Regions from separate parts of the Homo sapiens genome. Here regions 1, 2 and 4 are each linked to region 3. The links come from fine-mapping of genetic effects on gene expression. A gene starts in region 3. Each other region holds a variant in brackets. All regions are shown on one strand. Distances are between the middles of the regions. Region 1 overlaps RYR3 (ryanodine receptor 3). Region 2 overlaps CHRM5 (cholinergic receptor muscarinic 5). Region 3 holds the start of AVEN (apoptosis and caspase activation inhibitor). Region 4 overlaps AVEN (apoptosis and caspase activation inhibitor).

Evidence for each region.
Region 1: its variant is fine-mapped to the expression of AVEN in whole blood (TOPMed, PIP above 0.99).
Region 2: its variant is fine-mapped to the expression of AVEN in subcutaneous fat (GTEx, PIP 0.99).
Region 4: its variant is fine-mapped to the expression of AVEN in spinal cord (GTEx, PIP 0.97).

The regions. Positions count from the first base shown.
Region 1 is chr15:33,850,664-33,858,771 of GRCh38, reverse strand. It overlaps RYR3 (ryanodine receptor 3), which reads right to left. Exons shown (of 104, transcript NM_001036.6): 95 at 5,685-5,727; 96 at 5,090-5,217; 97 at 4,323-4,383; 98 at 3,860-4,006; 99 at 858-992. It also overlaps a transcript of AVEN not described here. Among named protein-coding and RNA genes, the nearest start is that of CHRM5, 110 kb to the left of the region's middle. RefSeq lists enhancers at 1-451, 4,591-5,790. The variant C/T (reference allele first, on the strand shown) is at 4,599.
Region 2 is chr15:34,060,971-34,069,078 of GRCh38, reverse strand. It overlaps CHRM5 (cholinergic receptor muscarinic 5), which reads right to left. Exons shown (of 3, transcript NM_012125.4): 3 at 1,621-6,436. The coding sequence starts at 6,361. The coding sequence ends at 4,763. It also overlaps a transcript of AVEN not described here. Among named protein-coding and RNA genes, the nearest start is that of AVEN, 26 kb to the right of the region's middle. The variant C/G (reference allele first, on the strand shown) is at 3,454.
Region 3 is chr15:34,036,076-34,044,183 of GRCh38, reverse strand. It overlaps AVEN (apoptosis and caspase activation inhibitor), which reads left to right and starts at 4,980. Exons shown (of 6, transcript NM_020371.3): 1 at 4,980-5,404. The coding sequence starts at 5,138. The region is part of intron 1 of CHRM5 (cholinergic receptor muscarinic 5); the gene reads right to left. RefSeq lists silencers at 4,888-5,057, 5,238-5,447, 5,538-5,597, 5,948-6,007.
Region 4 is chr15:34,008,454-34,016,561 of GRCh38, reverse strand. All of the region lies in intron 1 of AVEN (apoptosis and caspase activation inhibitor), which reads left to right. All of the region lies in intron 1 of CHRM5 (cholinergic receptor muscarinic 5), which reads right to left. Among named protein-coding and RNA genes, the nearest start is that of AVEN, 27 kb to the left of the region's middle. The variant G/A (reference allele first, on the strand shown) is at 3,413.

The DNA of each region.
Region 1 (8,108 bases), 190 kb after region 3:
GGCGATGTTGCTGCAGCCAAGCTGGCTTACTCTGGGCAGTGCCTTTTTTCTCACGAAGATCTGGCCTGACGGGACTCCCCCTCCCCACCTCCAACCTGATCCTGCTGCTGGCTGTCCGCAAAGAACCTCCGACTGGCTTGCTGAAATAAATCAAGTGCTTAATCCCGGTCCATGGGACTTTGCTCTCTGTTCTGAGAGACGATGATCAAAGCTCAACTTCCATGAAATTTAGACACTGGTTTCATTCATAATAATGTCTCATCTTGGCCAGGTGCAGTGGCTCACGCCTGTAATCCCAGCACTTTGGGAGGCAGAGGTGGGCAGATCACCTGAGGTCGGGAGTTTGAGACCAGCCTGACCAACATAGAGAAACCCCATCACTACTAAAAAAAATACAAAATTAGCCAGGTGTGGTGGTGCATGCCTGTAATCCCAGCTACTAGGGAGGCTGAGGCAGAAGAATCACTTGAACCTGAGAGGCGGAGGTTGCAATGAGCTGAGATGACGCCATTGCACTCCAGCCTGGGCGACAAAAGCAAAACTCCATCTCAAAAAAATAAAATAATGTCTCATCTTTACCCCGGAAATAGATGAATGATGACGCCACTGTGCAGGGTGCTTCCCTTTCCACGGGGCTTAGATGTGTGGTAATGAAAACTACCTCCATCACTTCTGTCTTCCCAGGACACTCTCCTGTTTGGAGAAGACATCTGTCTTCTACTTTAATCTCTGCTGTGCTCTGTAACTAACTCTACAGTTCTCAAGAGCACCCCCACACAGCCCTTCTTCCCAGTGAGGTGGTGGGGCGGGGTGGCCCCGCAGTGGGTGGGCTGGCCCCGCAGTGGGTGGGCTCTCACCGTCATCATGTCGTCGCACTTCATATCGGGCTCGTCATCGTCTTCGCTTTTGTTGTAGAACTTGCGGAAGAAGTTGAAAGCCACCACAGTATAGAGATAAACCACCACGGCCAGGAGACCGACAGTCAGAACCAACTGGGAATGAGAGGACAGAGAAAGGAAAAGGAGTGGGGTCTTCTCTACCTTGAAAGGTTCACAGGAGACTCTAAGAAAACGAGGAGGAAGAGTGAGGACGGGCAAGGAGAGGAAATGGGGAAGGGGTGGAGGGCGGCTAAGAAAGCTATCAGGCCATGAGCAGAGGAGGAAAGATGGCACCACAGGTAAAGAGAAGCGGGCTTCCTGGCAGAAAAGAGTAATGATGGGGTGTTGGGGGCTGAATTGTGTCCCTTCAAATTCATATGCTGAGGTCCTGGCCTCCAGTACCTCAGAATGTGACTGTATTTGGAGATGGAGATACAGCCTTCAAAGAGGTGAGTAAGTTAAACTGAGGTTGTTAAGATGGGCCCGCAACCAATCTCACCGGCATCCTTAGAAGAAAAGGAGTTGGAGACACAGAGAGAGAGGCTAGACACAGGCACACGTGAAGGGACGGTCAGGGGAAGCGGCAGCGAGAGGGTGCTGTCTACAGCCACAGAGAGGCCCCTGAGGAGACCAGGTGCTGGTGCTGCCAGCACCATGATACTGGACTTACTTACCGCCTCCAGAACTGTCGAAAAGACATTTCTGTTGTTTAACAAAATAGCAGTCTGTAGTACTTCGTTCTGGCAGCCCAAGCAGACTAATGTATAGGGCATTAGATTGGGCGTAAGTAAAATATAAAGGAACTTAAGTATTGAATAGTGCAGGTGCTGTGAGGAGGGATACATTGTGTTTTGTTATTGTTCATACAGAGCTAGCTGTTACCTGAGGCTTCACAATGTAGCTTCTACTCTAATGCTGCTGCTTAAAAAACCCCAGGCCGGGCATGGGGTGGCTCACGCCTGTAATCCCAGCACTTTAGGAGGCCGAGGCGGGCGGATCACGAGGTCAGGAGGTCGAGATCAGCCTGGCCAACATGGTGAAACCCTGTCTCTACTAAAAATACAAAAATTAGCTTGGCGTGGTGGTGTGTGCCTGTAATCCCACCTACTTGGGAGGCTGAGGCAGGAGAATCGCTTGAACCCAGGAGTCGGAGGTTGCAGTAAGCTGAGATCGCGCCACTGCACTTCAGCCTTGTGGCAGAGTGAGACTCCGTCTCAAAAAAACAAACAAACAAACAAACAAAAAACCCAAAGGTTCTTTGGACTGGTGGATATCCCTACCTTATACTATTTCATAAATAATCATGCACTGGATAATTGTCACAACTTTGAAGTTACTCTAAGAATTATGATGGTGGAGCTGAGTCACACTTTTTATTACAGAGAATTCTGCCCAGGCCCTTTGCAGTGTCCTAGGGCACGCTTACTTCCAGGCTTTAGGAGTGAGAGTTCACTGGCTTAAGTGAGGAGTACACAGGACCTGCACATCTGACCTCTCTCAAGGACTAGGCATTGAGCTGGGAGATAGGAAGATCAACAGGATCAGAGCTTTGCCTTCAAGGAGCCACACAAAAGGGAGTGGGTAAGTGTGAAGATCAGCACCAGAGGAAATGTATTCAGCAGACTTGAGGGAAGAATAGTGACTCAAACCTTGGAGAGCAGACCTCACAGAAAGCAGGTGGTTTAGGAAAAAAAAGAGAAAGAACTTGGACTTTGCATCAGGGAAGAAAAGGGGGTGAATCTACGCTCTGCCACTTAGCAGCTGTGTGGTCTTGGGTGAGACATTTAGCTGCTCTGAGCCTCAGTTCTCTTATCTGTAAAGTGAGCTTAACGTGTGCCTTACCAGGTAGTTGTGAGGCTGTCACAGTAACTGGGACACGGCATGAGCTTGGCACACTGTAACTTCCGTCTTTTCTCCCTCTCCCGTACAAAGGTTTGGACATGTGAGGAAGCCTGTCTGTCATACACAGACTTGTACTTAATGAGGAATGAAATGCTAAACAGTTTGAATCTGTATACAAGGAGAAGCCATTAGAAGATTTTAATATGGTTATAGCCGTTGCTATATCCAGTCTCATCAATATCCAGTCTTCCATATATTGTCAGAGTCAATTTCTTGATTATATATTAACTATATAATATGTATTAACTATATAATGTATATACACACATAAAATGTGTACTATGTGTATAACAACCATATACATATGTGTGTGTGTATCTGAAATCATTGGCTCTTAATTGGATGCAGATATCAGAAATATTGGCTCTTAATTGGATGCAGATATCAGAAATACCTGGGGAGTTTTCTGTGTACAGTATGTCTACTTGCTAACCCCCAGGGAATATATCAGATTCATGGAGGAAGGGGTAGACCTTAAAAAGATCTCCGGCCGGGCACGATGGCTCACACCTGTAATCCCAGCACTTCGGGAGGCCGAGGCGGGTGGATCACCTGAGATCAGGCGTTTGAGACCAGCCTGGCCAACATGGTGAAACCCCGTCTCTACTAAAAATACAAAAATTAGCCGGGCATGGTGGCATGTGCCTGTAATCCCAGCTACTCTGGAGGCTGAGGCAGGAGAATTGCTTGAACTGGGACCTGGGAGTCGGAGGTTGCAGTGAGCCAAGATCCCACCGCTGCACTCCAGCCTGGGCTACACAGCGAGACACCGTCACAAAAAAAAAAAGATCTCCAAGGTCATTCTGACATGTCCATCACCTCCCTCCCTCTCCTGGTTGATCTAAATGTCAGGGGTCACTGAATCAAGGTCTTATGCTTTTTAGATGATGGTTGCAGTTACATTTTTAATTGGCTACAATTTTGCAAAAACAATCACCATTAGTTGAAGTGTTTGGCCAAGAAAAGTACATTATATACCAAGACATATTCCTTCCTGTCATATACTGTATACTACCTGCTGTTCTTTTTTTCCTGTGCATATACAGGTCCATTCTGTTCTGCATCAGTAGAAACCATACCTGTTTGCCATTGTGAGTTACAGATGACAGAATGGTCCTCAGTGTCTTGAAGCCCATTGCGATGTCCAATAGGTGAGCAGCAAAGAAGAAGTTATTGTAGTGGCCCAGGACTGACATGGTTGTATACCAGGCAAGGTAGAGAAAGGACTGGGAATGGAAGAAAGCAGACTTTTAAGCATGTTTGCCTCATAGTGTGCTCATTATAAAACATTTTTTCTTATTTTGGGAGACACACTGAGGATAGAGGGGGTTTAGGTGCTGAGGTGCTGTGAGCTGGCCCAAGATCTGCTAAGTGAGCCCCATCTACCTTATACCATTGTATAAGTGTTCCCCCAGCACGTATAAGGCTCTTGGTCTTTGATAAGCAATCCCTGAACCCTTCTGAGCATCCTGCATAGCTTGCTTCTCTGTGGCATCCCTGAACTGGGGTATAGAATTTTGTTTTTCCAGGTGCAGTACTTACGTTGTCAGTAAAAACAACTCCAAGCTTCCAGATATGGTACTTCATGTCTATGGAACTTAGCCTAGAGAAGAACAAGTGATTTTAAAACTTATAAATGTCAAGAGGTAGTTAAGTGCTCAATAAGGGGGAAAAAGTAAGTTTTTTCTCTCAGGTTTAATAACCTAAATATGGCTCTCAGCTTTATCAAGTTGTATGTGCTCCCCATGAGACAAGAGAACAGTTGAATCACATAGCCTGAATTTTTTTTTTTTTTTGAAACGGAGTCTCACTCTATCA[C/T]CCAGGCTGGAGTGTAGTGGCGTGATCTTGGCTTACTGCAACCTCCACCTGCCAGGTTCAAGCGGTTCTCCTGCCTCAGCCTCCCAAGCAGCTGGGACTACAGGTGCCCACCACCACGCCTAGCTACTTTTTAAAAATATTATTAGTAGAGACGGGGTTTCACTATGTTGGCCAGGCTGGTATCGAACTCCTGACCTCATGATCTGCCCACCTCAGCCTCCCAAAGTGCTGGGATTACAGGTATGAGCCACTGCGCCCAGCCCAACCTGAAATTTTAATTAAGTCTTTATCTTTCAGCTCTATAGGGCATAAAAATGTATTAGTCTTCAAATTTTTAAGGCAGTGCTCTCCCAGTGTTAGAACCTAGAAGAAACACCTAAGCCAGACCACAGCCTGAGAGAACAAAGACACGGTTGTGATTTTTTCCTATGGAAAAGCAAAGATCTATCTATTTTAGCTGCTTTGGATTTGAACTCCTAAGCTTTTTGTACCATGACACCAGAGAAGCCGCTTCTGCTTTGGTCTCTTCTACTGGGCTAAAGTCAAGAGCATTTTTGTCCAAACCCAGAAGTTCAGCAATGCGTTCTGCTCCGTAGAGATCTCCATACTTGTTGATCACCTGAAGCAAAGGATGACAGGGTGAGCTCAGGCCACACGCCACCACCAAATATTTTCTAGCTCTGGGGTCTTCAGAGCTTTGCTGCCCTATGGGCAATCTTCCAAGGGGTAGATGAAGACATAGTTCAAAATGCAGAAAAAAGAGAAAACCCAGAGAAAAAAGCAATGAAGACAATTAAATGATAACTGTTTTTTAAGCTGATACTGATATCTTGATTTGCAGGGGAGAAAACATCTACTATGCAGAAAACAATGAGGACTGTGTTAACTTGTTTAAGGCAGATGAGTATATGAATGAAGCCAAAAACCTACATATGTTCATATCCAACCCCTTCTGTGACTTACTCTTCTTGAGATATTATCATAAAAGTAGCATCACATTTACTCATGTTTGTATGTGGAGAACTTAAAAAACATACACCACATTTTTTGGTGATCACGGAACTCACCCCCACTAACAAGGCATACCTTTCTCTTTACAAACTTGTCCCAGTAGTTATTAGGAAAAGATCTGAAAAACAAAACGAAAAAGGTTGGTTCTTCATTCTTAACATCAAGGAAAACACATCAAGAAACGTTTCAGTTTGAGTGCCTGGATCTGGGATCTTTCTGGTTTGTGTCCTGCTCACCAAAGAATTTTAAGATCTGATTGAAGTTCAGAGTCATCACAGGCTCTACTGAGTCATGTATGGCTTCATTACTTTGTATTGGCTTTTGAAACACTCAGAAGGCCACTGGGCAGTTTCTGCCTCAGAATTATGATTTGGAGCCAAGAATTGTGATGACAGATTAGACAGAGACAGTTGTATGTTTCTAAGTCCTTTCCCTAATCCCAGTATAACCAGAAACAAAATGCTACAGAAAACACAGGCATTCCATTCAATGAGTCACTACTTTATGTCACCTACTGGGGTAGATAATGGCGATGCGGGATGTGGGGTGTGGTAGAAAGTGTAGATAAAGTCCCTAACTATATGCAGTTTCCAGTCTGGGAATCACCTTTAGTTTATTTACATTGGATTTTTTAAGCTGAGTGTTTTTCCACTCTATTTTCTATTCCCACGTAATGCCACAGGGCCTGCTTTCCTCCAGGAGTTGGATCCCTTTCTTTTTTGGAGATGGTTCTGTACCATCCCCTAGCATCCCCAGAGAGATGATCTTTCTTCTCTCTGTAGCTTGTACCAGCTCCACTGCAAATATTTCTTACTGTTAAAGTTAAGAAAGAACTGTCATCTTCAGGAATGCTTGCAAAAACCATTGAAAATATGTTGTTCCTATCCAGAATTACTGAATCCTTCCTGTGGGGGGGTTCCTTGTAAGACTGGATTGCAGCCTAGGAGTCTCTGGCCTTTGGTGCATGCATTCTTACTTTTGTTTTCCTTTATTTGATTCATTCTTTTTGGTTCTAGAACACAACAGTTCCCTATTCTCCAGAGACCACCCAAGTTGGTGATAAGGAAATGGAGACCTCCTACTATTCACTGACCTCTCATGCCGCCTCTCCCCCAACAGGGTGGCAGTATTTAAAAAAAAATGTTTTTTTTTTTTGGTTTGTTAAAGCAGTTTCTTTGTCTTAAACATTTAAATGCCACTTGAAAGCAAAAACAAATGCTGGTGTTACAGAGTAAACTGCTAATATTTTATCTCTGGGGGATGAAAATAACAATTATTTTGACTTTCTTCCTTGTACATTGCTCCTTGATTTTTTTATGCACTGCATTTAAATTGAAAATAAAACAAATAAAAATCAAGCCATGCGCTCTCTGCCACACTGATACCTCCTTTCTCTTAAATCATTTATACAAATGGTAACATACAACTCAGCCTGGTCGCATTTTCTCCTAAGCAGAAGATTCCACGAGTGATGCTGAAGGGCCAAGGACCACAGGCTCTGGGCATGACCCCTTCATAGATGCGGTCTTACCTTCATCTGAGCATTCTGAATTTCTTGTCCCCTGACTAGGTATGCAAACTCCTTGAAGGTAGAAAACAGATTTTTTACTTGTTACGAGTCCTTAAAGTGTGGCATAGAGAACAGACCTTCAGAAGGAAAGTGCATAAATAAAGAGTACATCTGTACATGAATGTTCAGGGAAAAAGTACAAGATGCTTAACCCATTTAGTAATCAGGGAAACATACAATGAGGTGCCACTATACACCTACTAGATCAGCAAAATTATCTGCCAGCAATAAGTGCCAGCAAATAAGCAGAGAAGAAGAAACTCGAATATAGTACTGTTTGGAGCATAAATTGGGACAAACATTTTGCATATCCTACTATTCAGCAAATTTCTCTCCTGGGTCTATACTCTAGAGAAATCCTTCAACTTGTGTATCAGGTATAAGAATGTTCACTGTAGCACTGTTTATAAAAGCCAGAAACTTTAGAAAACAAGTTGAAATATCTACTGTCAGGAAAATTGATCAATGTGATAATATACATAATGGAAAATGCTACAGCTTTGAAAATGAACAAACTATAGCTATATACATCAACATAGGTGAGTTCCCAAACAATGCTAAAAAAAATTCAAGTGACAGTATAATGTATATAGTATAATTCCACTTATATTAAGTTCCAAATAGTCAAAATAGTCAAAATATATTTAGGGACAAATACCTAAGTGGGAAAACTATAAGGCAGGAGAATGAATATCACTAATATCACTGATTGCTAATTATTTAAGAATTAATATTACTAACCACTAATGAACATCAAAAATGTAGATAGCTGTGGGTTGGGAAGATATAATCAGGGAGGATAATACAGGGGATTTTTAAGCTCTCAGTAATGTTCTATTTTTTTAACCTTTTTGGTTTATAATTATACTGTAAAATGTACATATACATTTTATATGTTCTTATGTGTGCTTAACAATATAAAAGTAAAA
Region 2 (8,108 bases), 25 kb before region 3:
AGCACTTTGGGAGGCCGAGGCGGGTGGATCATGAGGTCAGGAGATCGAGACCATCCTGGCTAACACGGTGAAACCCCGTCTCTACTAAAAATACAAAAAATTAGCCGGGCGTGGTGGCAGGCGCCTGTAGTCCCAGCTACTGGGGAGGCTGAGGCAGGAGAATGGCGTGAACCCGGGAGGCGGACCTTGCAGTGAGCCGAGATTGCGCCACTGCACTCCAGCCTGGGCAAAGGAGCGAGACTCCGTCTCAAAAAAAAAAAAAAAATTGGATTGTAGGTGCTCTTAAAAGATGACTATATCATGAAAGACAGAAAAGCTGTAGACAGATTAAATAAGTCTAACCATGACATGACAACTAAATGCAATGTGTGATCCTGGATTAGATATTGAACTGGAAAATAAATTTTTATAATGAACATATATTAGTTTCCCAAATAGAAAAACTAGTAAAATTTGAGTGTGGACTGTAGATTACATAATAACATTGTAACAATGTCAAATTTCCTGATTTTTATATTTGTATTGAGGTTATGTAAAATAATCTCCTCCTTCTTAAGAAATACACACTCTAAGGTCAGACGCGGTGGTTCCTGCCTGCAATCTCAGCACTTTGCCAGGCCAAATCGGGTGGATTGCCTGAGCCCAGGAGTTCAAGACTAGCTTGAGCACCATGGTGAAACCCTGTCTCTACAAAAAGTAGAAAAAATTAACCTGGCGTGGTGGCGTGCGTCTGTAATCCCAGCTACTTGGGAGGCTGAGGTGGGATCACTTGAGTCTGGGAGGTCGAAGCTGCCACTCCAGCCTGGATGACAGAGTGAGACCCTGTCTTGAAAAAAAAAAAAAATGAATGAAAAAAGGAATACACACTCAAGAAGTATTTAGTGGTAAATTGGCAAGAGGTCTGCAACTTACTCTCAAATGGTTGAGAAAAAAATGTGCACACACACACACACACACATACAGAGAGAGCAGGCACAGATGTGGCAAAACGTTAAGTGCGGAATGTGGGTGAAGGACATTAGGAGTTCTTCTTATTACTCTTGCAACTTTTCTGTAAATTTTAAATGATTTCAAAAAAGTTTTGTTTTGTTTTTAATTGCTTCCAGCTTCTTCTTTGACAATTAAACTTTTTTCCCTTCTTCCGCTCACTCTCGATCTGGGGTCTTTATTGGGCAAGAGTTTACATAATCTTGAACTTTACCAGTAAAATGATGTGGGGAAGATGGAAATTAGTATCACTTACAATGGGAATGGAGTGGGGCACCGACTCTTTAAATAGTTGACAAGGAAATGCTGCTGCCCCTTTTTGTGCAGTCTCCACTCGGTAAAGGACTGTGGTTTCAGGTCTGCCCCACCTCCCTTGTCCCATAGGGAAGGGAAAGCGTTTTACTCACAGATCTCTTGTCATCATTATTTAATCTTAGTTTGGTCATTGGTAACTTAGAGGGAAGGAGGAATCACAAAAGGTAGCAAGAAGGACGTGTATCCATACTGTGTATCAATCCCAACTTTCTTGAAAGGCCAGGCCATGCAAAGGTGTGTGGGAAACCCAATATAGATGGATCTAATAGGCTACTCTGAAACAATTTTCTTATTTAAATGCTCTGCATTGGACCACTGTGCGGTTAAATTTCTTTAATATCTAGAATAGTGCTTATACAATACAGAAAAGCAGCCCAGTCCCCATATCCTTTGCTGTAATTCCAGTATTTACAGTAGACAACTGGAGATTCTAATCCAGAGGTTTGGGTACAGATTTCACAATTACAAAGAGCTGGCATCAGTATTGTCTTCAAAGGACATTCACCAAAGGAGCGAAGCAAAAGCTGAGAATATTGACAAAATGCTTTGTTCAACCAAAAATTGAATGGAAAACAGATTCCCTGACAAGTCATCAAATTCACAGCCAAGGGGAAACAAATTACAATGATAGCAAAGTAACAGCATCCAGTAGGTAACTAGCCAAAGTCATACATGGTTTACTATAGACAAAGCCTGGAAGACTGGGGGCATAGAAGGCCTAAGATCTCAAGTCAGGCCATGCGCCTCCCACCCACCCATCAGGTCCCTGTAGTTTACAATTAGGTCTATTCATTCTGAGGACCCCACTAAAGCCGCTATTCTATAGAAGTCTAGTTGTCCCTAGTAGTTTGGGATATTTTTTGTCTATGTCAAGAGGCATAGGTAGTCTGCAAAACTGGCTGCTTTCCAAAACCAATGATAAAAAAAGAAGCATTGACCTCTCTCTCTCTCTTTTTTTTTTTGAGGCAGGGTCTTGCTCTGTCACTTAGACTGGAATGCAGTAGTGTGATCATAGCTCACTGCAACCTCTAACTCCTGGGCTCATGCGATCCTCCTGCTTCAACCTCTGAAGTAGCTGGGTCTACAGGCACACACTACGATGCCCTGCTAATGCCCAGGTATTTAAAATTTTTTTTGTAGAGACAGGGTCTCCCTATGTTGCCAGGCTGGTCTTGAGCCCCTAGGGTCAAGCAGTCCTCTTGCCTCAGCCTCCCAAAGTGCTGGGATTACAGGTGTCAGCCACCACACCCAGCAATACACTTCTTAATCAATTTCACAAAAGATGAACAAAAAAGGCCAAGTCCTAAGCAAGTGCGGAGTGTGCGAGGAGTGCCCTCCATGGCATCCTTTCCCGATTTGTGTTCTTTTGTTTAAATTAGCTTGTTTCACTCTCAACTGCGAATGGTGAATGCCCAACATGGGCTTAAAAGCCTATTCTCATGAAGGGGTTTTCATCTTTATCAGGAATCAAAGCCTTAAACGAAGACTCAACTGTTTATCTGGCGCTGGTAGAGCAGGTTTGCTCATGAAGTCACACCCAGTTGGCATCACGGAGGCCCGAAAGCCTCTGTGCTGGAGAACTGAGCCAATTACTGTTCCCACCGAATTCTTTGCAGGTGTCAACCTGCCCTTTACAAAGGCTCAGCAGATGCACTGCTTACAAGATGTTTCATGTCAACGTGAAGTCTTTATAAGGGACCAGTCCCGTCCTGCCTGAGATTCTACTACCCTGAAGCCTCCGTGGGACATCCTGTGAGAGGCTGATGATGCTCTTCAGTGGTAGGCTGAAGCTCTCCCATACTCAGGTACATATCTAATTCCCAGGACAACTAAACCAGCTAATTTTCCATCCTCTTAGCAAATGAGACTGAAAAGGACCCGGCCTACACTAAGACGCATGAAGTCTGGTGATTTTTAAGTCCAGCTGCAGATGTAACCAACGAGTTAAATAATGTCTGACAGGAGTGCTTCATCTTTAAAATCCTTGCTGTGTACCACACTACTGCTTCTTTGTGGACTTTTGTCCACAAAGGTCCTTTGATTCCGTTTGTTTATACGCACTTAGAGATTTCAATTAAGTGTGGTTTTTAATAATCCTCATGCTGTCATGCATGTCAACTGTTTTATTTTTATGTATTACTATGACCTACA[C/G]TTTGTTTTTAAAAATGAAGCTTTCAGATCATTTTCAGCTTCATCGCACCCTCAAGTGTGCTTTTCTGGCCTTCTCATTTGTGACCGAATTTGGAGAGGAATAAAGAAGTCATTTTTAGGCCCTGATTTGAAGGACCTATAAAAAAAGACTTTCTACCCCCACCTCACCCCACAACCCCCTGCTTGGAGGCAGCACAGCTGACCTGCTTGCGTCTTGGTGTGAACTGGGGATCTGAACAAGGGAAATTGGAGGCTGCAAAAGGGCTCTGGAAGAAATTCAAAAGCAAATCTGTTTTCCACATTTTGCTCAGGTTTGCCCTGTGAAGAGATTAGAAAGCAAGATCTCTGAAAACAATATAAGAACCTTAATTCAACAGCCTGGAGAAAATCTTCAGCCAGTGAAGGGCTCTTACACAATTAGTCTTCCTAAGAACAGAGCATAAATAAATGGGTTCAAATGGGCACAAAATAGAATGCACAATATCTGTTTAGATAAAAGAAAAAATTTCCACTGGCAAAAACTAAAATAACTGACTGTGGAGACTTGATCCATCTTTATTAGTAGAAAAGAGGCCCCTTGAAAGGACTGGGTATGACCAGGTTTCAGTCCTTCCAGACTCTGGATTCTGAGAGGAAGGATGGTTCCCTGGAGATCAGCATGGGTTCAGTGAGTACAAGGAATTGACATTGGATATGAAAGGGAAGAGCAAGACCTTCACTCAGATGTGGGGACAGGAAAACAAACCACAGTATAGTATAGACCACATAATAGCTGCATAATAGATAGTGATCAGTTTATGAAGATACATATTCTTAGAAGCCTGTTGAATATCAGTCTCGTTAACAAGTGACACTGTTGTACATTCTCCTGCTGGTTCTCACTGGCACAAGACAGCTTCATAGACACATACATATTGCACAAAATTCTATGACAGGTTTCCACAGGAAAAGGTTTCCACCTGGTCTCTGCTGTTTCCTACAGAAGGGGCATAAGTTCCCTGAGTCACTGTTCATTGTTACCCAGTGTGCTTCCTCTTGTGAAGGGCCATGAGCCTATCCCTTTACTTCATTGGCAAACTCCCCTGGCATCAAATGGCCTTGGTCATAGGCAAGAGTCATTTAATATGTCAGCAATTGCTGCAGCTATGGCCCCTTCCATTTGGCAACCAAACTTGAGCCTTTACAAAAATCTTCAAGGACTCAAAATGAGATGTCTTCTTTTTGAAAATATACAAACCAGAATCAGCTTGCTCATCCTCAGAGGATGTTGACTGTGGTCATTGTTCTTTCGAGAGGAGTTGTTGACTTTTCAGGGTAGCTTGCTGTTCCCCTGCCAGTACAACTTCTCTTCCACTTTTTTCTTTTTCCATCGGCAGAGAAGCAGCATCTTAAAGGTCTTCCTGAAGGTTCTGTTGCAGAGGGCATAGCAGATGGGGTTGACAGTGCTATTGACATAGCACAACCAATAGCCCAAGTGCCACAGGGTGACTGGGACACACTTGTCACAGAAGGTAGAAACCAGGACCATGATGTTATACGGGGTCCATGTGATGATGAAGGCCAGGAGAATGGCACTCAGTGTCTGGGCTGCTTTCCTCTCTTTGACTAGGACCACTCTCTTTCGTTTGGTCATTTGATGGCTGGGGTTGGGATTGAGGCCTTTCGTTGAAGGTTCCTTGGCCACTGGGAAGGGGCAGGGCATGATTTTCACCTTGTGACAGCCATTGTTGGTCTCCTGGTTCCCGTCAGCTTTTACCACCAATCGGAACTTATAGGCCACACATTTCTGACTCTTGGGTCTATGAGCAGCTGCTGGAGACAGAAGGTAGTTTGGGGTGTCATAGTCACTTTTTTCAGTTTCAGCTTTCACAAAAGTTTCCTCAGTCTCTTCAGCACTGAATTCTTCCCCTGGGCTTTCCTTACCCTGACTCTTGTAGACCACTTGGAGGACAGGGTCAGTGGCGGGCTTGTCCTCATCCTCTGAGGAAGGGTAGCTGCTACAGGTGGTGAGCTGCTCAGCTTTGGCCCAATTGGCGCTTGGGCCAGTGGCTTGGGATGGCTTCCCAGTGGTGGAGGTGCTCCTGCGGGAGGATGACCAGGAGGCCTGGTTCCTTTCCCGCTGGGCCAGGGTGGGTCGAGGACAGCGCAAGCAGGATCTGAACAGAGCCCTATGAGCTGGCTTTCTCTTCTCAGCTTTGGTCACAGAGTCAGAACCCTGGAGGTCAGCCAGGTCCTTGGTTCGCTTCTCTGTTTCCCGGTAGATTCGACAGTAGAGGATGGTCATGACAGAAACAGGGATGTAGAAGGCAGCAATGGCAGTGCCAAAAGTGATGGTGGGCTCAGAGAGAAACTGGATCTGGCACTCATCCAGTGGAACTGTCCGCTTCCCAACCAAGTACTGCCAGCAGAGGATTGCTGGGGCCCAGAGGATGAAGGAGATCAGCCAGGCCAAGCCAATCATGATGCCAGCCCTTTTCGGAGTACGCTTGGCCCGATATGTCAAGGGTCTTGTGATGGAAAAGTAACGGTCAAAACTGATCACCAGAAGGTTCATGACAGAAGCGTTGCTGGCCACGTAGTCCAGTGCAAGCCAAAGGTCACAAGCCAGACTCCCGAGAGCCCAGCGTCCCATGAGGATGTAGGTGGTGTAGAGGTTCATGGAGAAGATTCCAATGATGAGATCTGCACAGGCTAAGCTGAGCAGGTAATAGTTGTTAACTGTCTTGAGCTGGCTGTTGACTTTGAAGGAGATCATGACCAAGACATTGCCCACAATGGTGATCAGGCTTACCACAGCAGTCACAGCTGCAATGGTGATGACTTCCCACAACCTGTGGCGTTCCAAAGGCTGGTGATTTACTGGGGTGCCATTGACGGTGGTTGCATTGTGGTAAGAATCCCCTTCCATCCTGGTGCAAAAATTTTACAGTAAATAGTGTTAGGTTCTAGGCTGTTTTCTATTTCAGCTCTTCTTGGCCAGCATCTGGAAGAGAGGGAAACACATTAGCTTCGCACACCAGCATGATTTTCTTGTCCATCCATTGTTTATAGTTTTTTTTTTTTTTTTTTTTGAGACAGAATCTCGCTTTGTCACCCAGGCTGGAGTGCAGTGGTGCGATCTCAGCTCTCTACAAGCTCCGCCTCCCGGGTTCAGGCCATTCTCCTGCCTCAGCCTCCCGAGTAGCTGGGATCACAGGCTCCCACCACCACGCCCAGCTATTTTTTTGTATTTTTAGTAGAGACGGGGTTTCACTGTGTTAGGCGGGATGGTCTCGATCTCCTGACTTCGTGATCCACCCGCCTCGGCCTCCCAAAGTGCTGGGATTACAGGCGTGAGCCACCGCGCCCGGCCCATTGTTTATAGTTTCTAATGGAATATTAAACGTGGCTGCACACATATTCAGAGCAAGATGCTGAAATCTCTAAAGTTTGATCACCTATTTTTAATGGCATCCTTTTGCTTTTTGTTGTTACCTATGGCTGAGTGCCCTTCTTATGCATGAGGCTGCTGCCCTCTTGTGGCAATTTTAAAAAGGGCTGGGAAGACGAGGAGGGTGAAGGGAAAGGAAAAAAAATGGATTGTTGAGAAGCAGTAAAGAGAGGAAAGCAGGGATGTTAAATCACTTTAGATTGCAATGATCATAAGGGCTGAAACCCTATATTTTTAAGATCCTGGTGATAAATACCTAAATCGTCATGCACTGGGGAAAAAGTGGTATCTATTCTATAGTCCCAGTCTTGATTATTAAACATTACTGAGGTGCCGTTGTGAGCCAAGACCATATTATACCACCTCTCCTTGCCCTAATGCACAAACTCCAAGTGCATATCTGGTTTTCATCTAGGGGGTTTTACATTTGCCCCAGCTGCTGAAGATAAGGACCTTCTCTCTGTTCCTGAACTATTTGCAATATCATAGAATTGTTTTAGGTTATCTTTTTTCTGGTTATAGAGTAATACATTCCTTATAAAAGCTCAAACAATGTCAAAATGTAAATCTTAGAAAGCAAAAGTCTCCTCTAATTCCACCTTGCAGAGGTAATCAATGCTAACAGTTTAGTGTATATTTTGGCATTTTCCCATATGCATATACTAATAAATAAATATTTAAATACAATTTCCCCTATGCATATACTAATAATTATTTTAAATGGGTGCCTTTTACCATTTACAATTTGAATTTTGTTTTTTACTTAACAAATGAATTATCACAGACAGCTTTTTATCAGTACATCTAGAGCTACCACTTTCATTGTAATGACTGTACATTATTCCACTTAATGGATGTACTATATTTAATTAACCCTCTGTTGACAAATTTTAACTTTCAAAACTAAAATGAAATTTTCCCTTTGTAGATTAAAAAATCTATGTACATGATAAAGATTTCAGTGTGTACTAAAGGGTAAATTGTAGAAATTAGGTCTCCCTCCCACCTCTGACCTCCAAGCTTGCAAGCTCCCCATTTTCAGAGGTAACCACTGCTACCATTTATTTTTCCTTCTAGAGATATATATGCATACAACATAAATTTGATGATATATAACAAACACCACCTTGACATGATAATGGGCGGTAAAGGGAAAAAAAAAATCTTTTTTTTTTTTTTTGAGACGGAGTCTCGCTCTGTTGCCCAAGCTGGAGTACAGTGGCGC
Region 3 (8,108 bases):
TTCTGAGGAACTTTGCTATAAAAAGGAGTAGAGAAATGATGCAGAAGTTGGATTAGGGTGTAAAGCCAAGAAGTTTTTTTTTTTTTTCATTTTTTTTAAAGGGCGAAAATACAGCATGCTTGTATGCTAATGTGAATGATTCATTAGAAGGTACCAACTGATGTGCAGGGGAGAGTGGGAGCATTTGCTGGAAAGACGTCCCCAAGTAGGTGATCACAGATAAGATCTAGTGCAGTAATAGAGGCCTTGGCCTTGGACTGGGACAGAGACCCCTCTATACTAACAGGAAGGAAGGCAGACAATATAGGTACAGATACAAGTAGGCTGGGAGTTGTGGTAATGGCAACACTGGAAATTCTTTTCTGGTTGCTTTCATTTCTTCATGAAATAGAAAGCAAAGTCAGCAGCTGAGAGTGAGGGTGGAAGGAGAGAGGAGAAGATATTGTCATGTATTCTGTATTTTGGGAGTTTGCTCCATGCATTTTCAGGAGTTCTCTAATCATGACTCCAGCCCTTCAAGTCAAAGTACCCTTATGACTTATGACCTGGTAAGCTCTTCACTTTCCCTTTTCTCCACCAGAGTACAGGCTGTGGATTCCAGGCTGAAAGAATAGCTCATGCCAGAGTCTCTCCCCCTGTAGCTGGTGAGCACCCTCAGTAGTAGATGGAGCTGTTCAAAACAACATAGTAAATAAAGACATCTTTCTGAGAAACTTATGTGTTTTCCAGTTTGCATTGTTTATATATTAAGCACGAGAAACTAGCTAAACTATAGAAAATCTGCTTGCCTATGAAGAGAAGAATCAGGAAGAGGTACTTTCCCCACAAACTTTATATTTGCAAGAGGACAGTGCATTTTTTTCTAAGTCCTATCATAACATCTACTTTTCGTCAAACAGTGAAAGCCTATGAGATCCATAGTCTTTTTTTTTTTTTTGAGACGGATTCTTGCTCGGTCGCCCAGGCTGGAGTGCAGTGGTGTGATCTCGGCTCACTGCAAGCTCTGCCTCCCAGGTTCACGCCATTCTCCTGCCTCAGCCTCCCAAGTAGCTGGGACTACAGGCGCCCGTCACCATGCCTGGCTAATTTTTTGTATTTTCAGTAGAGACGGGGTTTCACTGTGTTAGCCAGGATGGTCTCAATCTCCTGACCTCGTGATCCACCCACCTCGGCCTCCCAAAGTGCTGGGATTACAGGCGTGAGCCACCGCGCCTGGCCAATCCATAGTCTTAGACTAGGAATTACTGGGTTTCTTGTGATGTTTGAAGGCTCAGATGCTACCTTGACACAGTAGTTGAGGATGCATCAGAATCAACTGGCAGGTTTATTAAGACACAGATTACTGGGCCTCATCCCCAGAGTTTTAATTCTGAATTTGCATTTCTAACAAGTTCCCAGGTGATGCTATTTTTCTGGCCTACATTTTGAGAACAACTACCTTAAGGAATTGGCTACCATTTTATTTAAAAAATAACTTAGGTTGCCGGGCACGGTGGCTGTTGCCTGTAATCCCAGCACTTTGGGAGGCTGAGGCGGATGGATCACCTGAGGTCGGGAGTTTGAGACCAGCCTGACCAACATGGAGAAACCCCGTCTCTACTAAAAATACAAAAAAATTAGCCGGGCGTGGTGGTGCATGCCTGTAATCCTAGCTACTCAGGAAGCTGAGGCAGGAGAATCGCTTGAACCTGGGAGGCAGAGGTTGTGGTGAGCTGAGATTGCGCCATTGTACTCCAGCCTGGGCAACAAGTGCGAAACTCCGTCTCAAAAAAAAAAAAAAAAAAAAACTTAGGTCATGTATGTATTAAAAATATGCAAAAAGTACAGTTTCGTTTCTAAGGAGCTACCTATATAATTCAGCACTTTGGTTTTGATACTCATGAATTCTCATGAGTCCTACCTAAGGGAAAACTGAATTTTTTATTCATGCAATGGCATATGTTTAAAATCAGGACTATCAAGCAAAAGCAATACCAGAAAAGATTCCTTCCCTTTGTTATTTATGCAATCCAAAGGTCTCTGGTTGCTCAAAATGCAGGAGGTACTTGTGTGGTATTTTTAAACCTTAATAACACATTTTTGGACCAGAATCACACGAGGACAGCATATACCGTATCCTTGTTGAAAGAACTTTGGCTAGTTGTGTCCGCTAATTAGGAAGTGCTAGAAGGGGGACCTCAGAATTTTCCTATCCTAAACACTCTTGGTTGAATTGAGAAAAACAAGATACGCCTTGAATGAACAGATGGAGAGTAACATACCCCCGGACTTCTGAGGGCATCTGCAGAATAGACTTACAGGCATGGATTCTGGAATTAGACTGTACTGGTATAAATCCCAGTTCTGTTACTTACTAGCTTGAGCAAATTATTTAACTTTTTTGCAACTCAGTTTTCTTATCTGTAAAATAGGAATAATAATAGTGTTTATTTCATAGGGATATTTTGAAGATTTAATGAGTTAGTACGTGGAAAGTGCTTAGAATAGTATCAGGTGCAAAATAAGTGTTAAAAAAACTTGGCATCATCCACAAACCAATCTCTCTCTAAAATGGCATACCTTTCAAAAGTGTTACTGAGTCTTACACTGACTAGTTGAAAGTATCAAGCATAGTGAATGTGCCCTAATAACACTGGCTTAATCTGCAAGCCACTGATCTTTTCAACCTCATAATTTTGGAGGCTTCTCAAGGGATAGTTATATAGTTCCTTAAAGCCCTATTTCCCACTGGTCTCGTCTCTCACTACATTGGAGATGTACATATTAATCTCATACCAGACATTTGCCCAAATCAGGGTTTCTCAATGTTGGCAAATTTAAGGCTGGATAAATTTTTGGATAAATTACATCGGTAGCTCCTTAGATACTAAAACGTACCTTTTGCACCAATCTATCTGTGCTAGTGGTTCTCATCCAGGGTGATTGCCTCTCAGGGAACATTTGGCAATGTCTGGAGATGTTTTTGGTTGTCTTAATGAGGGGGAGAGGGGTTCATTCTGGCATCTAGTGGGTAGAGGCCAGGGATGCTATTAAATATTCTACAATGCACAGGATAAGCTACCGCCACAAAATGTTACCCAGCCCTAAATTTGCCAACATTGAGAAACTCCGATTTGTGCAAATGTCTAGTTTGAGATTAATGTGTGGATCTTCAACTTGGTGAGAGGCCAGACCAGTGATATGCTGGTAGATATTTAACCATATTCTTCCATGCCCCTTCCCCACTGCTATGGTCTAAATGTTCATCTCCCTCAAAATTCATGTTGAAATCTTTTTTTTTTTTTTAGACAGTCTCCTTCTGTTGCCCATGTACAATCACAGCTCACTACAGCCTCAACCTCCTGGGCTCAAATGATTCTCTATCTTAGCCTCCCAAGTAGTGGGACTATAGGCATATACCACCATGCCCAGCTAATTTTTGTAGAAATGGGGTTTCACCATGTTGCCCAGGCTGATCTTGAACTCATGTCTCAGGCAATCCACCCGCCACAGCCTCCCAAAATGCTGGGATTACAGGCACGAACCACACACCTGGCCTGTAACTGTGTAATCTTGGAAGTTACTTAACATCTGTTTTAGATTCCTGATCTGTAAAATGGAGACAACACTAGCTTACCTCGTAGGCCAGCTATTAGTCCCAAATGAAGTGATATGAGAAGTATGTAGAATAGTGTTTGGTGCATATAAGTGCTCTACAAGTGTTACTATTTTTAAGACTGTTTCTCTGGAGTTGACAATCCTTCAATAGTTCCCCCTGTCTGGAAGGCGCCCCTACTCCCATTTACCAACCAGGCAAACTCCTACTCAACCATTAGGCTTTAGCTCAGGGGTCTATTTCTCATGAAGCCTTGGGTAACCCGTTTAAATATAATTTAACTTTTCTTCTTTGGACCTTGATCTTGAATCTCTCACTGCACTCAGCAACACGGTACTGTAATCATCTATTCACACGACTAGATTATCTTCCTTGTGGGCAGTGAGCTACTTGAGGGCAGGGGCAAGGTTTTTTTTTTGTTTTTGTTTTTAATTTCAGGACATAGCACTGTGCCTGATGCAGAGTAGGCAATTAGAAGCAATGAAAAGTATTAACTATGTATGGATATAGGAAAGAACCAGAAAGTACTGAGGGGGAAGAAAACACTTATTCTGCTAGGCTGACATTTTAGCCCTTGCTTTCATTATTTTCAGGTGGTTTCAGTCCCAAGTTAAAAACTGCTTTCATGCATCTGTGTAACCAACTGTTCCCCTTCCTGTTTTCTCCTTGGTTGAAAGAAGGGACTGGAGTGAGACCGCCTTAGAATGCCAGTTCCACCACTACCTAGTTATTCACTTTAGTCAAGTTTTTTTTAACCTTTCCAAGGCTGTTACCTCACTGCAGAATAAGGATGACAGTCATCCCTACCTCATAGAGCTGTTATGAGAATGAAATACTCATGTGCTCAATAAATGTCAGCTGTAGTAGTCATTTCTACAGAAATTCTGCTGAGGACTTTGACGCCCTTTCTAGCCATCTCCCAGTTTCGCACTGTTCTCTCTCCCACGTGCTGCAGTCCACCTCTCACCAGACACAAACTCTTGTCTTTACATCCACACCTCCTGAACCCTGACTTCGGTATAGTTTTAAAATGATACACATTCGTTGCTGAAAATTAGATTAAACGGAGGAAAAAAAATTAACTCACTTCAAATCTCAGCAGTTAACCACTAACATTTTAGTATGTATTTGTTTAGACCTTTTCTTATGCAAATACATACGTTTAAACTTTTTTTTTCCGAGAGTTCACATCATACAAATTTTATTTTATGACTCGTCCTTGCACTTAGCACGGTCTCTCCCCCAACCTATCTCTGATGCCTTGAGAATCCCCCCGCCCCGCTGCAGACCCCCACCACTTCCAGCTCCCAGCGGTCCGGCCTTCCCGCGGTCCCGGTTCCGGCCCCACCTGCGGGACGCCGGCCGCCCCGCCCCGCCCCGCTCCGCTGCGGCCGGCCTCGATCCCTAGCCCCGCACCCCGCGCCTCGCTGCTACCGGGCGCCTTTCGCTCGCGGCTCCTCCGTGCGGCCCGCTTCCGGTGGGGCCAGGGCGTCTCCGCCGCAGCTCGGCTCCCGCGCGCTCAGCACCGCCAGCGGCGGCCAGATGCAGGCGGAGCGAGGAGCTCGGGGAGGCCGTGGGCGGCGGCCAGGCCGCGGCCGGCCTGGCGGAGATCGCCACAGCGAGCGGCCCGGAGCCGCAGCGGCGGTAGCCAGAGGCGGCGGCGGAGGCGGCGGCGGGGACGGAGGCGGACGCCGGGGCCGTGGCCGTGGCCGGGGCTTCCGCGGCGCTCGCGGAGGCCGAGGAGGAGGAGGCGCCCCGCGAGGCAGCCGCCGGGAGCCGGGAGGCTGGGGCGCAGGGGCCAGCGCGCCGGTAAGAGGCGACGGCTGGTGGGGCTGGGACCGCGTGTAACTGGGGCAAGTGGGGCCGAGGCCGCCAGTCAAGAGCCGCAAGAGAGCGTGCCAGGCGCGCGCCAGACGGGCGGCGGCGCCGGCGCCTGCGCGGGACGGGCGGATGGTGGCGCGGGGGCGCGCCTGGTGGCGGGGGCGCGCCTGGGTATGCGCTTGGCCCTCGTGGCCTCCTGGCCGGGCTGGCGCGAGACAGTGGGGGTAGGAGGGCTTCCCAGCCTGCCCCAGGGTCCGGGTTAGGAACCCAGAGGCCAAGGCCGTGTGTCAGGGCTGCAAGTCTCGGCGGCCCGTGGGCCGGCTGGGCTGTCTGTACGAGTACCACTATGGGACGGAGGCGCGGCCACGACGTGGTCCCTCGGCAGCCTTTACGGGCACGCTCCTGTTATTAGGAGGGAAAGGATTTTTTGGTCTGTTTTGTTAACTGTCTGTGCAATGCCTAGTACACAGTAGGCGCATAATAAAAAGTTTGTTGAGTGAAAGAATGACCCCTACGACTGGACTCTAGTATTTGGGGGCGGGACCAGATGCATAGTTCTTTGTAATAGCGTAGTTCTCTTTTATTATGCCTGTATGTGTAGAAATCAGCGAGCACTGGGCTTTGTCGTTTTGAATTTTCAATTTATAAATGAGCAGTCAAGTTCTGAGTTTTAATAGCAATATCATCAGTCTTATTGACACATTCATAGAAGGAAGTTTTTGGAGATTGGAGCAGGGGATGATATATATGGGGGCAAAGCTAACCATATCTCAGCTAAAGGAGTTAGAGGACTGTCTTTTTATGAGTTGTTCTGTTACCTTAACATCTGTAGGACAAGACCATCTTTATATTCTGCATTCTTATGCACACTGATTTAAAAAATTCTTTTTTGCATGAGGCAAAATTTGCTCTTACTGAAGTATTTACAATATCTTGAGGGCATAGCAGATAAGATATCCCTAAAGAGAGTAGTTGTATACAGCAATACAGAGCTGGAAAAAAAAGTATAAAACTTAAATTTAAATGTAACAAACTTAAATCTTGTTAGGATTAAGATAGGTAATAGGCAAAACTTGAATGAGATATAAAAACATTTTTAGGGTCAGTTTACCTCGTGTAAACTGACAGAAACTAAGGTAAATGACAGAAACTAAGACCAACCTAGTGCCCACTATATATCACATTTTGTTCTTATAACTCTATTATATATATATAATATATATGTAATGTAGAATTATGTAATATAATAGTATGTAATTATATATTAACTACAATGTTATATATTATTTATATATCCATATATAGAGAGTAATCTTTATTTTTACAGGTTAACTGACTTGCCTAAGCTTTCACAGCTAGTGGCAGAGCTGGGATTTATATCAAGCTGCCCTTGAGTCAACAGTATTTTATCTCTTACTTTTTCGTGAACCAGTTACCACTTTATTGAGAACAAAGTAGATATTCCTTAGCTGCAGGGATCGTGCTTTAAGAGTAATTGTAGTAATGGTACATTTGGTGTTAACTATGGTGTCTGGCGCACAGGACTTTACTAATAAGTGTCTTTAAGTTGAATTGAGTGAGTGAAGGTGCTTCTGTTTTGTTAATCTCTGTTGAATTAAATTGGGTGAAATGATGGTATATATTTTTTTTTTTTTTTTGAGACGGAGTTTTACTCTTGTTGCCCAGGCTGGAGTGCAATGGCATGATCTTGGCTTGCTGCAACCTCCGCCTCCCGGGTTCAAGTGATTCTCCTGCCTCAGCCTCCCAAGTAGCTGGGATTACAGGCATGAGCCACCTTGCCCGGCTAATTTTGTATTTTTAATAGAGATGGGGTTTCACCATGTTGGTCAGGCTGGTCTCGAACTCCTGACCTCAGGTGATCCACCCGCCTCGGCCTCCCAAGGTGCTGGGATATGGATTACAGGTGTGACCCACTGCGCCTGGTCATGATGGTATATCATTAAAAGAAAGAATAATACAAGACTTTAAAAAATTTAAGATAGTATTGTAACACATTCTGTTAAAATTTTAGGCTTTTTCTTTTGTCGAGTTGGTCTTATCCCTTCATCATCATGTTTTCAGCCAAAGCTGGAGGGAGGGATGTTGGGCAGATTGTTCCTTAATTTTGGTTTGGATTGGTCATCTCTAAGTTCCTTCCATTTCTCAGATTCTGAAGTACTGTTTGTATTTAGTCTTGCTAGGACACCATTTTTGGTGCTTAACCATTACATGAGACAAGATTGATTGACTTTCCTGAAGCCTTCTTGTTCTCATATCCCATGGTGCATTTGTGCCCCAAGGAGAGAGTAACCGAAATGATCAAAGGAAAAAAAAATCATAATAGACTCCTAGCCATGTAAAGACCAGTTGTCCACCTTCAGAAACCAATTTTGTGTACACCTTTGCTTTCTATTTTGGACCACTGCATACAAATGGAAAACAAAATCAATCTAACCAACTTCTACATAGCTATGTAATACTCCAGGGTAACTTAGTTGAGTACTAAGTTGAGTACATCTCTTAGTCTCTTGCTCTTAAATCATTCCTTCTGTAAATGGTCTGAGCTCTAAGCTTACTGATTATGGGTGAGCATAATTATCTTCACGGAATACTCACTAGAAGCATTATTGTACTAGATACAATCATTAACTTTAAAAAAAAAACACAAAACTGGCTGGGTGTGGTGGCTCGC
Region 4 (8,108 bases), 28 kb after region 3:
TTTTGTAGCCCAGGAGATAAATATTGCTGAGATACTTTTGACTGAAGTGTGGTATGAAGGGAAAGGGGGAAATTTGTAAGAAAAAAGAGTCATGTGGCCACATGCAGAGAATCAAGTACCAGGAAGCAGATAATTGACCAGGTGAGATGGAGAGGTCAGTACCCATGCGAGCCCAACTCAGTGTCTATTAGTATTGTAAGTTTACTACATAATAAGATTTTTAAAAGTCTGTTGTTTTGTTGATCTGATAGTACTGTGCACTTCATTCTAATGCAGAACCTAGGAGAGATAAGTTGCTTTCCGGTTTTGTTTTTGTTTTTGTTTTTTGAGATGGAGTTTTGCTCTTGTTGCCCAGGCTGGAGTGCAATGGCACGATCTTGGCTCACTGTAACCGAGTAGCTGGAATTACAGGCGTGCACCACCATGCCCAGCTAATTTTGTATTTTTAGTAGAGACGGGGTTTCTCCATGTTGGTCAGGCTGGTCTCGAACTCCTGACCTCAGGCGATCCGCCCACCTTGGCCTCCCAAAGTGCTGGGATTACAGGCATGAGCCACCGCGCCCAGCCGCTTTCCAGTTTTATGTCACATAATGGTTACTGTTCAGATCTGAGGGTGTATTATTTGAAGGAAAGTTAAGAGTGCATCTAAGGAGCCAGGAATGTACTGTCTCCAATTGTTGATTCTGCTAACGAATGGTAATTACTCTTTCATGCCTCTCATTTTTATCATTTTATCTTTGAAATAAAATAACACCTATGAGAAAGATATAAGGACTTGGAGAAGGAAAGGGATGGAGTGAAGATCCGTGTGAGACGTGTCATTGAACATTAGCTTTGTGGGTTGGTTTACCTTTTTGTCTGTTAGAGTCTCTCTACCCACTTTTTTTTCCCTCATGTGTTGCTGTTTCTGAGCAAGACTGAGAGCTGACAACTGTTACTTTTTTATTCTTAGCTCCTAAAGACCGAGGGTGGAATTTTTAGTTAGTTTAATTTCCCAAATTATCCTAAAACAGTGAGATTGTATTATAATAAAACATTTTTGGATATTTTGTGGAATTTTTTTATTTTTTTTTATTTTTTGAGATGGAGTCTCGCTCTGTCACCCAGGCTGGAGTGCAGTGGTGCGATCTCGGCTCACTGCAAGCTCCGCCTCCCGGGTTCACGCTATTCTCCTGCCTCAGCCTCCCGAGTAGCTGGACTACAGGTGCCCGCCACCGCACCTGGCTAATTTTTTGTATTTTTAGTAGAGGTGGGGTTTCACTGTGTTAGCCAAGATGGTCTCGATCTCCTGACCTCGTGACCCGCCTGCCTTGGCCTCCGAAAGTGCTGGGATTACAGGCGTGAGCCACTGCGCCCGGCCTATTTTGTGGAATTTTTTAAAAAGTGCTCCTTTGTTATCTTTTTCCTTATGATAACAGCTTTGAATGGGATTTGACTGTGATCCTTTGTTGTTGCTCATCTTCATGGAAAGCCAGTTTTCCCAGCTTTTAGAAGGGAGACACACTGTTAAGGACAGCTTTTCAGGCTTCAGGACTCTAGAGTACCAGAAGTCTTCTGTTGTCTTGAAGTGATTAAAAAGATGGTCCCTGCTTCTCAAATCCGGCACCCCTCACCCCCTGTATCTGACCCTTCCTTTCTGTTTATCTTTTATTATTCCTCTTCTGCTCAATTTGAATTCTGCCCCCAGGAGTTTTTCTTCAGAGTGGAGTTTTGTCTGGCAAAAGAGCTTTTGGCCAGTTAGTTTTGAGAGGTCAAGGGGCCACATTCTCAGCTCCTTCAGCCTTAGCTGCAAATTCCTTGAACTCACCAGCTGTTGGAGTAGACCCAACATATTTAGCCGCTGTTCCCAGATGGGCCCGCTGAACTTTCCAGTTGAGTGCCTGTTGTTTGTTTTGGGATGCCCAGGTCTGTCAGATGCTGCATTGATCCCATCTCTGCTTCCTCTCACAGACACTGGTACCTACCTTACAGGTCTTGTGACTATTGGTGATTTGTACCTGTTCATCTTTGGGACTTTGTGGAGATACTTTGTCACCTAGGCTTTTGTGGCTGTTTCCCATGGATTTTTGATTTTGTTACCCTAGTTGCTCTTTGTATTTTTTATCAGGGGACCTGGGAAAACCATACTGCTGCTGCTGCCATCTTCCCAGAATCCTCAAACGTGGTTTTTGTTTTTGTTTTTTTTTTTTTTTTTAATGAGATGGAGTTTCGCTCTTGTTGCTTAAGCTGGAGTGCAATGGCACAATCTTGGCTCACTGTAATCTCTGCCTCCTGGGTTCAAGCAATCCTCCTGCCTCAGCCTCCCAAGTAGCTGGGGTTACAGGTGCGTGCCACCACGCCTGGCTAATTTTTCATATTTTTAGTAGAGATGGGGTTTTGCCATGTTGGCCAGGCTGGTCTCAAATTCCTGACCTCAGGTGATCCGCCCATGTTGGCCTCCCAGAGTGCTGGGATTGCAGGCGTGAGCCACTGTGCCCAGCTAAATGTGTTTTTCTTTTTTAAAATTTCCCATTGTTGATCTCCCCGGGTTTTGTTTTGAACAGCTGTTATCTCTTGGTTAGAAGCACGTTCTTTGCTAATACCAAGGCAGGGGATAATGTGAGTTCCCTCTGTTCTTGAGGTTGGGAAGAGTCAGCAGGCGGAAGATAGCAGCCGTTCCTTCAGTAGGCTCATCTCAGGCCGTGAGTCTACATCTAGAGCAGAACTGTTTCTCGCTCATGGGTCCTCGTACATACTCTTCCCTCAGCCTGTGATGTCATCCTCCTGCTTCCCACTGGCTCACAAGCCTGGTCCTGAAGATGTCCCCCATTCCCCCTTCTCCCCCATTGGTGATGTTTTTTCTGTGCTTCCGTAACATCTTGTGAATGTTTTATAGTAGCTGATATCACACTATATATGTTTACTTCTCCGTGTTTCCCACAGCACTGTGAGTTCTTGAGGCCTGGGCCCTTGGCTTATTGGTCTTTGTATTCCCAATGCCTGATCCAGTGCTGGAAGTCAGTAACTACTCAGGAAACACTGTTAAATGAATATTGGCAATTTAGTGGTGCAAGGAGCAAAAGTAGCTCTCTGTGGACATATTGCAGGACAGACAAATGTAACAATAAGTGCCACTTAGAGTTGTACTTAAAGAAATAAGTTTATCCTGGGAAGGAACTATCAAGGTGACTGTTTTTATTTTCATTTTATTTAAAACATTTGGCCAGGCCCAGTGGCTCACACTTGTAATCCTAGCACTTTGGGAGGCCAAGGCAGATGGATTACTTGAGATCAGGAGTTTGAGACCAGCCTGGCCAACATGGTGAAACCCCACCTCTGCTAAAAATACAAATATTAGCTGGGCGTGGTGGCGCGCGCCTGTAATCCCAGCTACTCAGGAGGCTGAGACATGAGAATCGCTTGAACCCAGGAG[G/A]CAGAGGTTGCAGTGAGCCAAGATTGCGCCATTGCACTCCAGCCGGGGCGACAGAGTGAGACTCTGTCTCAAAAAACAAACAAACAAACAAAAAAACCACTGTGATAGGAGGAGACACTGGTCAGGTCCTTAGTATGCTACATTCATTTTGATTATAACCATTAAAAAAGCTGGTGGGGAATTTAGGAAATTTAAAACAGACCATGACAATGATTAAGAAATTGGAAATTTGTGCTTATAAAGGAAAAAATAATGGTTAACTTAGGTGAAGAGTAAACATAACCCCAGAACCTAGCCGTAGGACAGACTGGTGCAATGTGATTTCTGCATGTTCTTGCTTGAGGGCAGAGGCTTGACCTATCTAGGTTCCTTCTAGTTCAGTAATGCTTTACTTGTTAAAGTTCTCTTCCTCTGGCGACTTGAGAGTTTGGAAAATATCTTCAAGTGGGCCAGAAGACAGCTATTTAATGGTCTGATTTTTCTGGAAAGTGGAATGTGATGACATTAAAACCTGAGTGACTAAGGAAACCAGACTTACGCTGGTAGATAAGAGAGTTGAAAATTTAACTGAGACAGAGACAAAAGAAAATCTGGCCATTTGCAGCATTAAGCATATGCAGTGAAATCCCAGCAAAAATGGAACAGAGAGGCAGATGTACCTGAAGCATCCCTTTCCGCCTTCAGAAAAACAGTAAATGGTCAGTGGCAATGGTTCAGGTAAATATATTTTGCACACCAAGATCACCCAGAAATGCTCAGGGTATTTATATAAAGATATTTTTTATACAGATGACCTTTAATCATATGATTTAACAAAGGAAATGTTTTACTTATAGGCCTTCTAGTTGTGTCACTACTTATTGTGTGTGTCTGTGGATTAAATAGATTGGCAAAGCAAAACGGTATCTTTTCTCTCAGATCATAACCACGTCAAGAAGCAAATTGTCTTTATATAGGACCATTTAATGCCTTCTTTACTAGAAAAGTTGTTGATGGTAATCTAGCTCATAGACTTTACCTGGGAGTTGGGACTTGCAAAATGGCTTAATTTGGTAATTTCCAAACCTTGTTAAAAAGCTTCAGAAGTCCCAAATTCTTATAAGAAGCTCATTTTTTAAAGCAGATAAAATGAAACTGATTCTATTGCCATTTCCCCCTTCCTTTCTACAAGGACTCCCTAAAAGGACCTCCACAAACTGTAGTTTAAAATCACTAATTAGTCCAATAAAAGTTACTCCAGTCTAATTTCCCAAATTATCCTTAAGTCATTGAAGCATAGAACTCGCAAGGTCTTGACTTTGAGAAATCCCATAGTCTGTCCCTGGTGTGGGCTGCCTACAGATGCAAATTACCTTCCTGTGCCTTCCAGTTTTAGCCGACTTGGAAGCAAAATGACACACATGAGAAAGATATAAGGACTTAGGGAAAGAGAGAGATGGAATGAGAGGCCTGTGAGATGAGTGGTTGAACAGCTGCACTGAGGGTTGAGTTCCCATTTTCTTGGTTGTGGGATGCCTCTCTCCTCCCTTCCCCTCTGCTTTTTCCATATACTGACCACAAGGAAGGACAGCTGTATATACTTCTTTTGCTAGAGAAACAGTTGAATTTGACTATCATGTGGATCATTTTATTCCCATTCTTAATGGCCACAGTATTTTGGAGCCCAATTATTTATTATTATGTACATTGTTCTGGGATCAAGAGATAATTCACATATATGCCATATACTGCATTTATTAATTTTTTCAAATATGATCATGCATATCTTATTTAATATACAACATATATTTTATTTAATACACAAAGACAAATGGAAACGCCCTTTTTTGTATATCCGTATCCTTTTTTATTCAATGTTTTATTGAAATTTCACTTCTTGAAAGAATTGTTTTTGCTAGCGTAGTTCCCCCTGCCTTTTTTTCCTTTTTCGTATAGGCCTAGTAAACAAAGTTTTTTTTGAGACAGAGTCTTGCTCTGTCACCCAGGCTGGAGTGCAGTGGCATGATCATAGCTTACTGCAGCCTTGAGCTCTTGGGCTCAAGTAATCCTCTTGCCTAGGCCTCCCAAAGTGCAGGTATTATAGGAATGAGCCACCATGCCCGGCCCTAGCACACTTTTCAAATATCGAAAACTGTCATTGAATTCTTTAATTATGATGGTTTATGAGTTTTTCTATTGTTAAAAAGATAATGTTTTTTAATAGTGAAAAAAGTAGTGTAAGTTGTTGCTTATGGTCCAAATGATTATATAAGATAAAAATGACCTTAATAGGTTTACAAATATAAAAGTTGGCAATTAACTATTAATCAGTTATATATTTTAAAGCTCAGTAACATTAAACATTTTGAAATGGGCTGAATTAGTATTATTTTTCAGTTATACACATTGTAAAATTTTAATTGAGAATATTTGACATTAGTAATCACTGTGATTAGTTTTTGGTGACTTTTTTGTTGGAGGGTTTCCTTAAATGTGTTCTTTCTCATTTCTTTCTATTCTACCTATTCACCTCTATGATATAATTTACCTTTTGTGAGGAACATAGGAGGTGGGTGAAAAATGGTGTGAATGTTTTTGAACTCCTTACTAGCTTCAAAACAGGAAAGCCTTTTCTATACCTTTTTGCTCCAGAAGAAAGTAGAACCAGGGACCTGCAAAAACTAGGTTCTTAAACATAAAAGGCTTTAAATAGGATCTGTTGTCTGGTTGTTATATGTTATTAGTATTAATAACTTCTGAAATTTTACTGGCTCATCTGAAGGCTCTTGGTGATAGAGATAATCTGTAAGTATTCTCTTGGCAACTTCTTTTATTTATTTATTTATTTTGGAAAGAAAAGGTAGGATATTTAATGAATAAGGTTGTCCAAATATACTGTTCATAGGTGGGCCAGTTAAATTAAGCAGATTATAAATTAATGTAAATTATTGTTTATTTATTGTAAGTTAAATAGGATGGTAGCTTCAGTAAGTAAATCTTTTTATTGTTTCTGTTAAGCATATGGTTCCTTTTGTCTAGTCAGTCTAATCCATATTAAAGGTAGGGGCTTGAAGTTTCTAACTATTATTGTTAAACTTTCTATTCTCCCTTCTATTCTGTCAGTTTTTGCTTCATATATTGTGAAGCTGTGTTCCTAGGAGCATATGTTTATATGTTCATAATTATTATGTTTCTTTTTTTTCTTTTAAGAGACAGGGTTTCACTCCATTGCCCAGGCTGGAGTACAGTGTCATGATCATAGCTCACTGTAACTTCAAACTCTTGGGCTCAAGTGCTAGGACTACAGGTTCATGCCACCATGCTCAGCTAATTTTTTATTTTTATTTTTGTAGCAATGCTCTCTATGTTGCTCAGGCTGATCTCAAACTCCTGGCCTCAAGCGACCCTCCCTACCTTGGCCTCCCAAAGCATTGGGATTACAGGCATGAACCACTGTGCCTGGCCCTATTGTTATATCTTTTTGATTGACCTTTTTATTATTATGTAACAGCCTTCTTGGTCTTTATAACGATTTTTGTTTTAAAGTCTATTTTGTCTGATATTTATGTAGTCATGCTAGCTCTTTAGTGTTTGCATAGAATTTTTTTATGCTTTTTCTTTATTTTACTGCTACTTGTATCTTTGAATCTAAAGTGAATCTCCTGTAGACAGCTGTAGTTGGATATTGATTTTTTAAAAAAATCTATGTTATAGGCCCAGCAATACAATTATACACATATTGTTTTATAGAATTGCTTTTAAAATCAGTAAAGGGAAGACAAGAGAAGAAATATGCATTTATGTGATATTTTATAGTTACATAATTACTGGTTTTTTCATGTGGATTTGTTTTTTTCATGTGGATTTGAATTGCTGTTTAGGACCACTTGTTTTTAGTTTGAAGAACTTTGTTAGTGTATCTTGTAAGGTGGGCCTGTTAGAGCAAATTTTCTTACGTTTTGTTTATCTGGGAATGTCTTTTTTTCACCCTCACTTTTGAAAGATAGCTTTTTTGTATGTAGGATTCTTGGCTGACAGTTTATTTTTTTTCCTAGCAACACTTTGAATATGTTATATTATTGCCTTCTGGCTTCCGTTGATTCTGATGAGAAGTTAGCCATTAATTTTCTTTGGGTTGCCTTGTGATGAGTTGGTTTTTCCTTTTTCTTGATTTTCAGTGTTTTCTCGATGGTCTGTGTGTGTGTGTGTGTGTGTGCGCGCGCGCACGTGTGAGTGTGTGTTTTAATTTTATCTTAACAAAATGGAGTGGGTCTGCAGAATCCTTGTTTTTGGCTTTTAGCTTTTTTATTATGTATCTATGAATCTCTTTGCATATACACTAGAAGTTCATTGAGCTTCTTGGATGTATAAAGGTTTTTCATCGGCTAGGCACGGTGGCTCACGCCTGTAATCCCATCACTTTGGGAGGCTGAAGCGGGCAGATCACGAGGTCAGGAGATTGAGACTATCCTGGCTAACACGGTGAAACCCTGTCTCTACTATAAATACAAAAAATTAGCCTGCCATGGTGGCACACGCCTGTGGTCCCAGCTACTTGGGAAGCTGAGGCAGAAGAATGACTTGAACCCGGGAGGCGGAGGTTGCAGCGAGCCGAGATTGTGCCACTGCACTCCAGCCTGGGTGACAGAGCAAGACTCTGTCTCAAAAAAAAAAAAAAAAAAAAAAAGGTTTTTCATCAACTTTGGGAAGTTTTCAG